Regions from separate parts of the Homo sapiens genome. Here region 2 is linked to region 1. A link means that fine-mapping ties the variant in region 1 to the expression of a gene that starts in the linked region. Tissue or cell type: atrial appendage. Region 1 holds a variant in brackets; the other region holds the start of a gene. All regions are shown on one strand. Distances are from middle to middle.

What was found. PIP is the estimated chance that this variant, and not a neighbour inherited with it, causes the effect. A credible set is the group of variants that fine-mapping cannot tell apart.
Region 2: SPINK5 starts here. The variant in region 1 is the best candidate, but not a certain one, in a credible set for the expression of SPINK5 in atrial appendage (GTEx, PIP 0.90).

What each region holds. Positions count from the first base shown.
Region 1 is chr5:147,963,487-147,968,644 of GRCh38, reverse strand. No RefSeq gene overlaps it. Among named protein-coding and RNA genes, the nearest start is that of C5orf46, 60 kb to the right of the region's middle. The variant T/C (reference allele first, on the strand shown) is at 3,149.
Region 2 is chr5:148,061,125-148,066,282 of GRCh38, reverse strand. SPINK5 (serine peptidase inhibitor Kazal type 5) reads right to left here and starts at 2,303. Exons shown (of 33, transcript NM_006846.4): 1 at 2,184-2,303; 2 at 911-936. The coding sequence starts at 2,238.

The DNA.
Region 1 (5,158 bases):
GGAATACTATTCAGTCACAAAAAAAAGAACAAAGTAATGTCTTTTGTAGGAATTTGGATGGAACTGGAGGCCATTATTCTAAGTGAAGTAACTCTGGAATGGAAAACCAAATACTGCATGTTCTCACTTGTAAGTGGGAGCTAAGCGAAGGATACGAAAAGACATACAGAGTGGTATCATGGACATTAGAGACTCAGATGGGACAGGCTGGGAGAGAGGGTCTGGGATTAAAAACTACTGGTTATAATGGGCATTATTTGGGTGATGGGTCCACTAAGAGCCCAGATTTCACCACTGGAACAGTTCATCCATGTAACCAAAAACCATTTGTACCCCTAAAGCTTAGAATGTTTTAAAAAATTACATTCCTAGAACCCATTGGCCTGTTCCATTTCTGAAAGAAGTCAGGAAGAAAAGGAATAATCAAATTCTGGCACTTCCTCCACAAAGCAAGAGAGGCAGACTCAAGAAAGGATGTTTCTTTCTCATACAAGTGAACATCTCTTTGTACCATTCCAGGGACTGTCACTCAGGCAAGAGTCTCCATCTACCCACACATATGCATGGAGTGGGTTTTATTATTGGTAATAATGAAAAAAACTAGCATTTATTGGGGTCTCCTTTTTCTCAGTACTTGCAAAATGTTTAATATTCTTTACCTTATTACTTTTTCACATCCACACTGTTAAATAGATATTGCTATCACCAGTTTGCAGATTATCATACAAATTAAGCAATTTTGTCTAAACTCACCAACCCTGAAAACTGATGTTTGAACACTGGTCTTTCTGTCTGCAAAGCCCTGGTTGCAAACCTGCTTCCCATATTGCATCTGATCCCACCCCATCAAAATTTTATTATTCAAAATTTGAATATAACACTGATATAATGCAAACATGTACACACATGCATGCACATAAAATCATCATATTTATGCATTATGTAATTTGATACCTACAGGTATTTTCTTACAGTGTCTTTCAAGTTTCACTTAGCAATGTTGCGACCAAGCAAGCTGTATGAATTCCACAAATAGCATTGATAAGAAGATGCAATTCAGTGGAAGCTTTATTATTATAACTAAACTGTTCATGGCTTTTTATAGTTTATAAACACTGTCATCTAGTTCTCATTTGATGCTTGTATCAACCATGAATGTGAAATTATCATATTTTGCAGAAAAGATACAGCTTCTAATAATCAGAAAACAATCTGAAGTTAGAAGCTAGCAAAACAAAGACAGGGGAATTGAATCTTGGTTCAAACTTCAAAGTTGGGGATCTACATCACTTCCCACTGCCTCTTTTTATGTATTTCATGGATTCTTCCCTTATCCTAAATTATTCTCAGTGTGGTTGCTGATCGTGGTCATCTATGAAGCTGAACATTTCCCCAGATAGAAATCTCCAACCAATTCTATTACTAGAATGATTTTACCGGGATATAGTCCTTAATTTTTTTCCTAACTCTTTCACTTCTCAGTGAAATGCCTAGATACAGCCCAAGGTGAAATGGAGTGAATAGCTCAGTGCCATCTATTGCTGAGTCAGCTGATGCACGGTCTATGGGTCTGCGTGACTGAAGGCAGTTGATTCCCAAAGGCAGACCTCTTCATCTCCTCAGCAGCCCCAGGGCTGCTTCAACAAACCAGCACATTGTCTGGGATGGCCTTTAGAGTGCAGAAATCTTGTTTGCCACCTTTGTTTTCAAAGTGAAAAGACAGAAGGATAGGAAGCTTTTTCCATCTGAAACCCTGCATCAACAGTCTTTCGCCTGCATGTTTTCTGATTACATACACTCATATGAATGAGACATTGGGCAATGATTTCAAGACATAACTTCTTGTGAATTAATGTTAACTCCTGTTACATTATTTAGCATTAGTGTTAAATAACTACCCAGAAACAACTGCAATCCCAATCCAGTTAAGCAAAGCCATATCTGAGACATATACACCATTCTATACTATAGCACTACCAAGAGTGGTGAATAAGCTAGATAAGAACAAGATAAAGGCCTATTCTTTATGTCTCATAGACAAAACCACCATCACAGCCTACCTTCAGTACTGTATTAGCCTCCAGGGTATTCTCTGTGCACATATTTGACCCCTACAATCTAATCTCCAAAGACCAGCCATGGGTTATCTGAAAGCATAAATCATATCGTCACTCCCCTTCTTAGCAATACCCGATGGCTTCCCATTACTCAGAATAAAATCCAAACTCCTTACAAAGCCTGGTTGCTTAGATTTTATTCAGAGAATGTCTTAGATAAATACTTGGAAAATTCAAGATCATAAGTCCATGAACAGACAGCAGAGGAAGATATTCCTGTAAAATACTTTGATTTGGGGGAAGACCTGAGAACAGCAAGAAAAGGAGATGTTCACAGTGAAAGAGGAAAGCTGGGAGATAGTCACCCAAAGAAAATAATATGTTCCTTATGGAGATCTGAAGAAAAGCAGTCAAAGTCTAGGCTGTGGTTAGGTTTTTATCAGAAAGCAGGATTATTTAGCTCAAAAGCAAGCAATGGAGCTTTATTCAGTTTATTTTAAAAAATATTTTAAAGGATTATTAGGATTATGGCATCTTCAAAGATGAAGAAAATTAAGAATAAGCTACTCCAAGATCCTTAATTCATATACATGGAAAGTAATTTCCAAACAGGAGTGAGTGTTTGGAAATTACTCTGTGCACAGAGTAATTGCTCCAGTTGTGCAATCAGTGGGTGGTATTTATACAAAGAGGACTGAGTTGCCTGGGATCTCTCATGAGGTGGTGTCAAAGCCAGGACCAGAACTCAGGGATGCACACTCAGACTCAATGCTTTCAAACAATATGTTATGAGGAGCTAATTTATTTTTTTTCCTTTTTTCTTTTGTTTGTTTTCTATTCATCACAATTTAATGCTTTAAATTAAATGAAAATATATTCACATATGTTAAATACAAGTCTACATTTTACCACTGTTAGATTTAAGACATAAAGATACTTTATGTCTTATGCTTATTCTCAGTTCTGTACTTACTACACTGCAGACCAGTAACAGTTTGTGGATCAGCACCAATCTGTAGGCAGCACTTTGAGTAGCACAGCTTTGCATGTCCTAACCAACCACTCTTGCAGGTTCATGAGATGCTTCTCCA[T/C]AGCAAGTTGATGCTTGACTTGCATAAGCACTTACAAAGCAGACTGCTGCCATCTCCAAAGGCGATCCTTTCTTCTTTGGATATAAACCTCACCATGAACTCACTTCCTCTGAGAAGCCCAGAAAAAGAGATACTGACCCTAGAAGTGACTTTAGCCATAGAACAGAAGGCCCCTCATGCTGAGCATGTTGAGCAACTGAAAAACACTCAGAATGGCCAACCAACGATAATGACATATATATATATACTTAGTGAGTTATCAATAATTTTCTTAGACATTTGTTTTCTACAAGAAGAATGCATCGAGAACATATTACAACCGCTTTCCAAAATTGCCTTGTGGTATCCTTCTGTCTCTATTGGCACTTCTCAGCCTCTCATGCTTCATGTTTTTTTTCCTCATAAAATATCAGCACCAGCATATTTTATCTTTGCTTGTTTTTCTGTGCCCACCAATAATGGCAATATACATACTATCTATTTTTTATCAGGTACTATCTTAAGTGCTTAACACACATTTATTTATTTAATCTTTAAAACAACCTTGTGATTTAAGTATCATTAATATCCCCACTGCAGAGATAGAGAAACTGGGAGAAAGTGAGTAGGTTCAGTTTTGAACTCAGTGAGATTGAAACACCTGTGAGATATTTATGTGTGGATATTCAGGAGCCTATTGTACACAATCTTGGAACTCAGAAGAGAAACAACATTAGAATTAGATACTAGAATCTTCAGTTGATGGAATAAAACCAGGTGGACTGGAGGAGATTTCTTGGAAGTGTGCACAGAGTAAGAAAGGGACCAGAGCCCTAAAGAGCAGCAAACACATCATGATCTGTCACTGAAGGCTTCAAATGAGTATATTTGCTGGATCCTTTGCAGTTGAACTGTTTACTGAGAGTGTCTGTCCCTCTATAAAGAAAAAGGAGCCCAGAGTCCACAATCTCTGGCATGCAAAAAGGGCAAAGAGGAACTGTGTTAGAAATGATGTCAGTGATAAGGAAGGGGTGGGGGCTGGAAACTATGCTCAGAAGGAACAATGTGTGTCTGTGGAACAATGGGGAACAAAAACAACAGGGCAAATGCTCCTTTAGTCTACAGAATTCTGAGGGGTTTACATGGGGGGCACTGGATAGACTTGTTCTTTGTGGTTCGAGGAGATGAAACTAGGACATGTGGGTGAAAGCTGCAGAGAAGCATATTTCAGCTTGTATGAAGAAGGATTTCCCATAGCCAGGGCTCTCAGTGTGGAACTGGTTGCCTGCCAGTATCCTCCACTGGGAAAAGGCCAGTTTCCACTTGAGAGTGAGACAGGATGGTTCCTCTCTGTACCCATGAGAAACCCTCACAGCAATTCCCACGGTTATGAGGAAGGATGTGAGGACAGAATAGGGATTTTCCTGGTTGGGCAAGAACTATGGGACAATAGCTGTGTGGTTCTCAAACAGCTCTTCTTGACAGTGATGTGGGTGATGAAAAGGCCAAGTCTCGGTGTCACAGCCAACAATAGTGTTCACAGAGCAATGGCTTTTCAATGCCGATGATCAGTAACTAAGTGTCCTCTCAAAACATAAGAGGAAAACTCTGGTTCCAAGTCCCTTGGATTTCACTGAAAAGCAGGGTTGGAATCTCCAGGTTGGAAGGACCTCAAAGCACTAGCTTGGCTCTTACCTATGTGAGAATCTCCCTTGCAGCATCCCTGATAAATGTCCTCCTGGTCCTGTTTACAAATCTTCAGTGATGAGCTTTCTGCAAGGCAGCTTTCCATGGTTCAAGAGTTCTCACTGTTATCGATGAAAAGTAAAAACAATAGTTCAGATTTATTGCATTCTCACTGTGTGCTGAACACCGGGCTGAATACTTTCCATGTATTGAAATCTTGAATCCTTGCCACAAAATTATTAAACAGCTTTAGTGTTATCCTCATTTGTCAGGAAGTGAGGAAATTAAGTATCACCATGTTAAGAATGTGTTCAAGGTCACACAAACTGATAGAACTGTCTTTAA
Region 2 (5,158 bases), 98 kb before region 1:
TATCTTTCAAATAGATTAAAAAATTTAACTTCTAGTAGAAAATGATTTTTTAATTTATCAAACAAAAGAGGTTTAAGAGTTGGTAAAGCACCTTCTTGCGTCAGGGCCTCTGCGCTCACAGGTGCTTCTGTCTGGCCTGCTGTAAACTGCAAATACCTTCGTGGTTCATTCCCTTATGACCTTCAGATTCCTATTCTAATACTGTCTGTCCAGAGAGAACTTCCCTGATTATCCTTATGAGAATGGATACCACCTCCATTCTCAGGGATCCTATTATGCCTCCTGATTTATTTTTCTCCTAGCATTTATCATTATTTAACGTACCATATGTTTTGCTAAGCTACTTATTAATTTGTCTGTTTTCCTACACTAAAACGTAATTTTCAGGGCAGGAATTTCATCTATTTTGTTTACTTAAAAATAACCCCAGCATCTCAAACAGGGTCTGACATCTAAGAGATGCTCAATAAATATTCATTACATGAACTATATACACCGACTATATACAAGATACAGACCACCCTCTTTTGCATAATGATTACTAGAAAATTTATTTCAGCTTCCTATGTGGTGTATCATGGCTTGTTGAGATGTTAAATGGAACAATAGTAGTTTTCCAGTTGATTTATTTTTTGTTTATGAAATTTTAAAATGCTCCTTTAACATGATAAATTGCCTCTTGCAGACATCCATCATCATTAATATGTTGAGTGTGTGTGTGTGTGTGTGTGTGTGTGAGAGAGAGGCTCATGTCCTGATTCATAAAAATCTGTTTCTGTGTTTTTAACAAAAGCTATTAGTACCTACCAGTATAATATGTTTGTATTATTAACATGAAGGTGTTGGCCACAAACCACTTTTCTTTGGGAATCTTGGAATGAATTCAATGAACAGAAAAAGCAGGACTAACCTGATCTTCATTCTTACTGGCAGCATCTGGGATGAAAATATAGAAACCAAAGTTAAGGAAATGTAAAATATTTAATAAACAAAACAAATAATCCATTTAATGCAGCATCTTGATTGCTTTAATGACAATATGTTGTAAAACCGCAAATGGTTTTTGAACACATTAAGATTTATCATGGCAAATAAAAGAAGGGCACTGGACCAGGAGATTAGTATATATACTCACAAAGGTCTAATCACTCAGAAAGTTACAATTACTTTGGAAAATAATACTCATGTGAATTCTAACCCCATCAAAATAGCTTATCTTCAAAAGGTCCTTTCGGAGTAATAAATGCCAGCCTCCCTTTTAAAATTACAATATAACATACACACAAAATACTATACCAATTATAATTTTGAAACTATATTATAGTTGAAACTATAATATAGCATTACATTTATAGGATATATACATAAAATTTAATTTTCTGAATTCTGGCAGCTCTACCTCCTTATTACAGCTGCAAAAGTTAGAGATCTGACAGAAGGTAAGATTAAGGTCACAGGCTATTATACTCTCTCATTAACATAGGCTCTTTTGTACCTACACACCTATTTTAGGAAAATGGGCATTATTTGTATATGATTTCAGACTATCTATGAGTTTCTCTTTTTAAAAATTTTAATGTTTCAGAGCAACGTAAGTCTAGGCAATTTGTGTTCTCTTAGGGTTAAATAGCAAATATAAAAATCTACCTTCCAGCTCCCACAAAAGTCCCTCACTCTTTGGGAGAAATGCTTTCAACCCATTTAGCATTTGAAAACACAAGACTAAAATAAGCTAGAAGATACCACTGCTTTAAAATAAGAACAGATGATTGAATTTTAAAAAATATTTCATTTATACCTATAACATTAAAATACATATATTATTTACAATTAAGTTTTAAATGTCTATTACATATATAAGAATATGCATTATGAATTGATACATTTAGCAAGAGGAAGATGAAGAAGAATCTATTCAGTTTTCTGAATTAATAAAGAATTAATGGAAGAATTTCTCATGGTTAGAAAATTCAGATTATCTCAAACTACTTGCCATTTCTAAAGATAACAACATAATTATAAAGCCACATATATAAATCTTCAGAACTCTGTGTCTGGCAAGACATTTCAGGATTATACATGCATACGTAAACATTTTTTGGCAGGAGTAGGGGGAGAAAAGTCCCTTCCCCAGGGCTTTGAGATGTGTGGCAAGAGGCTTAGATTACACACAAATTGCTCACCTTGTATGAGGCAAAGAGCCAAGGGCAGAAGCACTGACACTGTGGCTATCTTCATGTTGAAGACGATGCAAGTCGCCTACAGGTCCACTCCATGCATTGCTCAGCTGGTGCAGTATGACTGAACTCGGGGCGATGCAGTTTACTTTTATAAAGCACTGGTGACACCCACATAAAACCAGTTGTTCAAGGTCATGGGACTTATATACCACACCACTTTAGCTTCCATCCTTTAGGATCCTGTCAGGGTGTCAGGTTTGAACAGAGAATATCTATTTCTAAAGTAGGAATGTTCTTTCATGGTACCTCCCCCAGAACGCAATTGATGGAGTCCACAGACCCTACTCAAAGTTGAATATTCTATAATCCTATATAATAACCGAATTCCTCAGAAATACCAGATATACTACCTCGTAGACAAACATGTTTCTGACTGGACTCCCTTCATAAGTGGGAGAGGAGAGGAAAGGAAGACAGATTGGTTGTCCTACCAGTCAGGTATAGATTTAAAGATTTCCACATCCAGAGAAATCCAGGGTTCCTGTTCTGAAGTGTCTGAGTTCAGTGTCACAGACTCATATATATGTTAGAGTTGAACGACCCTAAAAGATAACCTGGCAAAATTCTAATGTTGAATATATAGGGAGGCAGGAACTCAGAGGAGCAATGACTTTCTCATAAGCAGACAGTTTAGTTGGAGCAGGCAGAGGAGGCATCCAGCACTTGCAAGCAGACCACACATATAACATTCTTTCCTCTCTGTACACTGCTTCATCCTTAGACATTAGAAAAGGCAGGAACGTTGGAAAAATAAAACTTGTATGTAACTACTTTTAAAACTTCTCAATCTGCAGGATATTTTATATTCTGAAGCCTTATTTTATATCCTAGCCAAACATCATAATCATAAACATTGGAGACTCAGTTTAACTTTCCATAGCCTATGATTACCCATATTACCGTTTGAAAAATTTGGCTCAATCAGTTTTCTCTAAATCATATTTCTTCCTGTATCATCCCATTATTTAGTCTCCCAAAAAGAAAAGAAGAAAAAAGTTGTTAACAATTATAAATGTGTAAATGTAACATTTTTCTAGAGAAAGTTTCTTCTCTTTAGTTGCTTCTTTCATCCTACAAGTAACACCTTTTTTCTACCAGCTTATTTTGCCCTAATAGCTTAAGAAAGCACCTGAAGAAACATGTGAAGATGACTGAAACCAGAGCCAAATTGTTTCATTCCAGTACTTCTCAAGATATTCACATCCACAGAAGAAAAGTTCGAGACTTTATCCAATTAAAGGCCTTTTTATGATGGTTCCAGAAAACTGATCAAAGTTGCCCAACTTAGGGAGTATGCCAATATTATGAGATTTATCACAGTGAGATAATACGTCCTTTCTTTTTTCTCTCATGAAATAATTTATTTCCTATAAAAATATAATCACTGGGCCAGGCACAGTGTATCACGCCTGTAATCCCAGCACTTTGGGAGGCCAAGGCTGGCGGATCATGAGGTCAGGAGATCGAGACCATCCTGGCCAAGATGGTGAAACCCCATCTCTATTAAAATACAAAAATTAGATGGGCTTGGTGGTACGCACCTGTAGTCCCAGCTACTCTGGAGGCTGAGGCAGGGGAATTGCTTGAACCCGGGAGGCGGAGGGTGTGTGAGTTGAGATGGCGCCACTGCACTCCAGCCTCAGCGACAGAGCAAAACTCCATCAAAAAAAAAAAAGATATACACACACACACACACACACACACACACACACACATACATATATATACACACACATATATATATATATATAAAATCATTGGTTTCAAGGTCTGCACTATTGTTGTAGCTTGGCTCCTTTCCAATGGAATAGTAAAATTAGTGACCACGGAAAGCAAGTTCAAATTCCATTATTGTTACAGGTTAGAAAATCAAAGTCCATCATAGCTTAATGGAAAGAGAATGAGACAGGGTTTCAGAAATCTGTTTCTATTCTATGTAGTCTTTTCAACTATGTAGGGATAGAAATGAACCCAGCTTTGAAGCAAGCTAGAAATGGGTCCAAATCTTGAATTGTTAGCCATGTTGCCTTGGACAAGTCACTTATTTTCTCTAAGCCTCAGTTTCCTAATATGTAAAATAAAAATAATAACACGTACATTGTACTAGTGCTAAGAGGTTTAGAGATAAATCATATATATAATGCGTGTGTGTTTGTGTGTGTGTGAGAGAGAGAGGTGCTTAGAACAATTATCAAGTTTATGTGATAAGCTTGATAGTTAATGATAGCTGGTCTTGCATTTTTACATAATTATAATAACGTGGTTGTACTAGATAATTTCTAAGATACCAAGAAAAGTAAACATCTGTTGACTGTGGATTTCACCAATAGATTTATATTTACTCAGCATAGAAAAACTACCCCAACACAATTTGAGGTGAAATTAAACTATAACGATATATGTTCTCTTTTTCCCTTTTAATTGTATTTTAAACCATAATGCCTAAACAAATCGAAACATCACCTGTTAAAACTTAACGAAAACCATTGCTCTGTTTCAATCAGCATTGATTTCTTGTCTCTTTCTCTAAAAGCCTCTTCTAAATATTCACATATCAATACTAATTTTTTATCTTTCATCTGCCCTGTCAGACCATACGAAATGTGTCCCAACCATATATTCTGTTATTGACGGTAAAAGAGTTTGATGCCTTAAAATGGAATCAATGACTGTGTATTATGCTCTAGTGACCCCTAGCCTAGCCCAAATGGAGAATATTCCCAGGAGTGGAAGTGGTGCTAGGGTGGAACAGAAGAACCAAAAGATGATTGCCTGTCTTAGGAATCTCTACTATGAGGAAACATTGAAGACATTGGTTTCCTTCTTACTGGAAAAGAGCTCCTCAGAGATGCCAGCCTTTTCTGAAATGATGAATAAAAAGTTTGAAACTGATATCTTTTCCAAATGGAGAAAGTAGT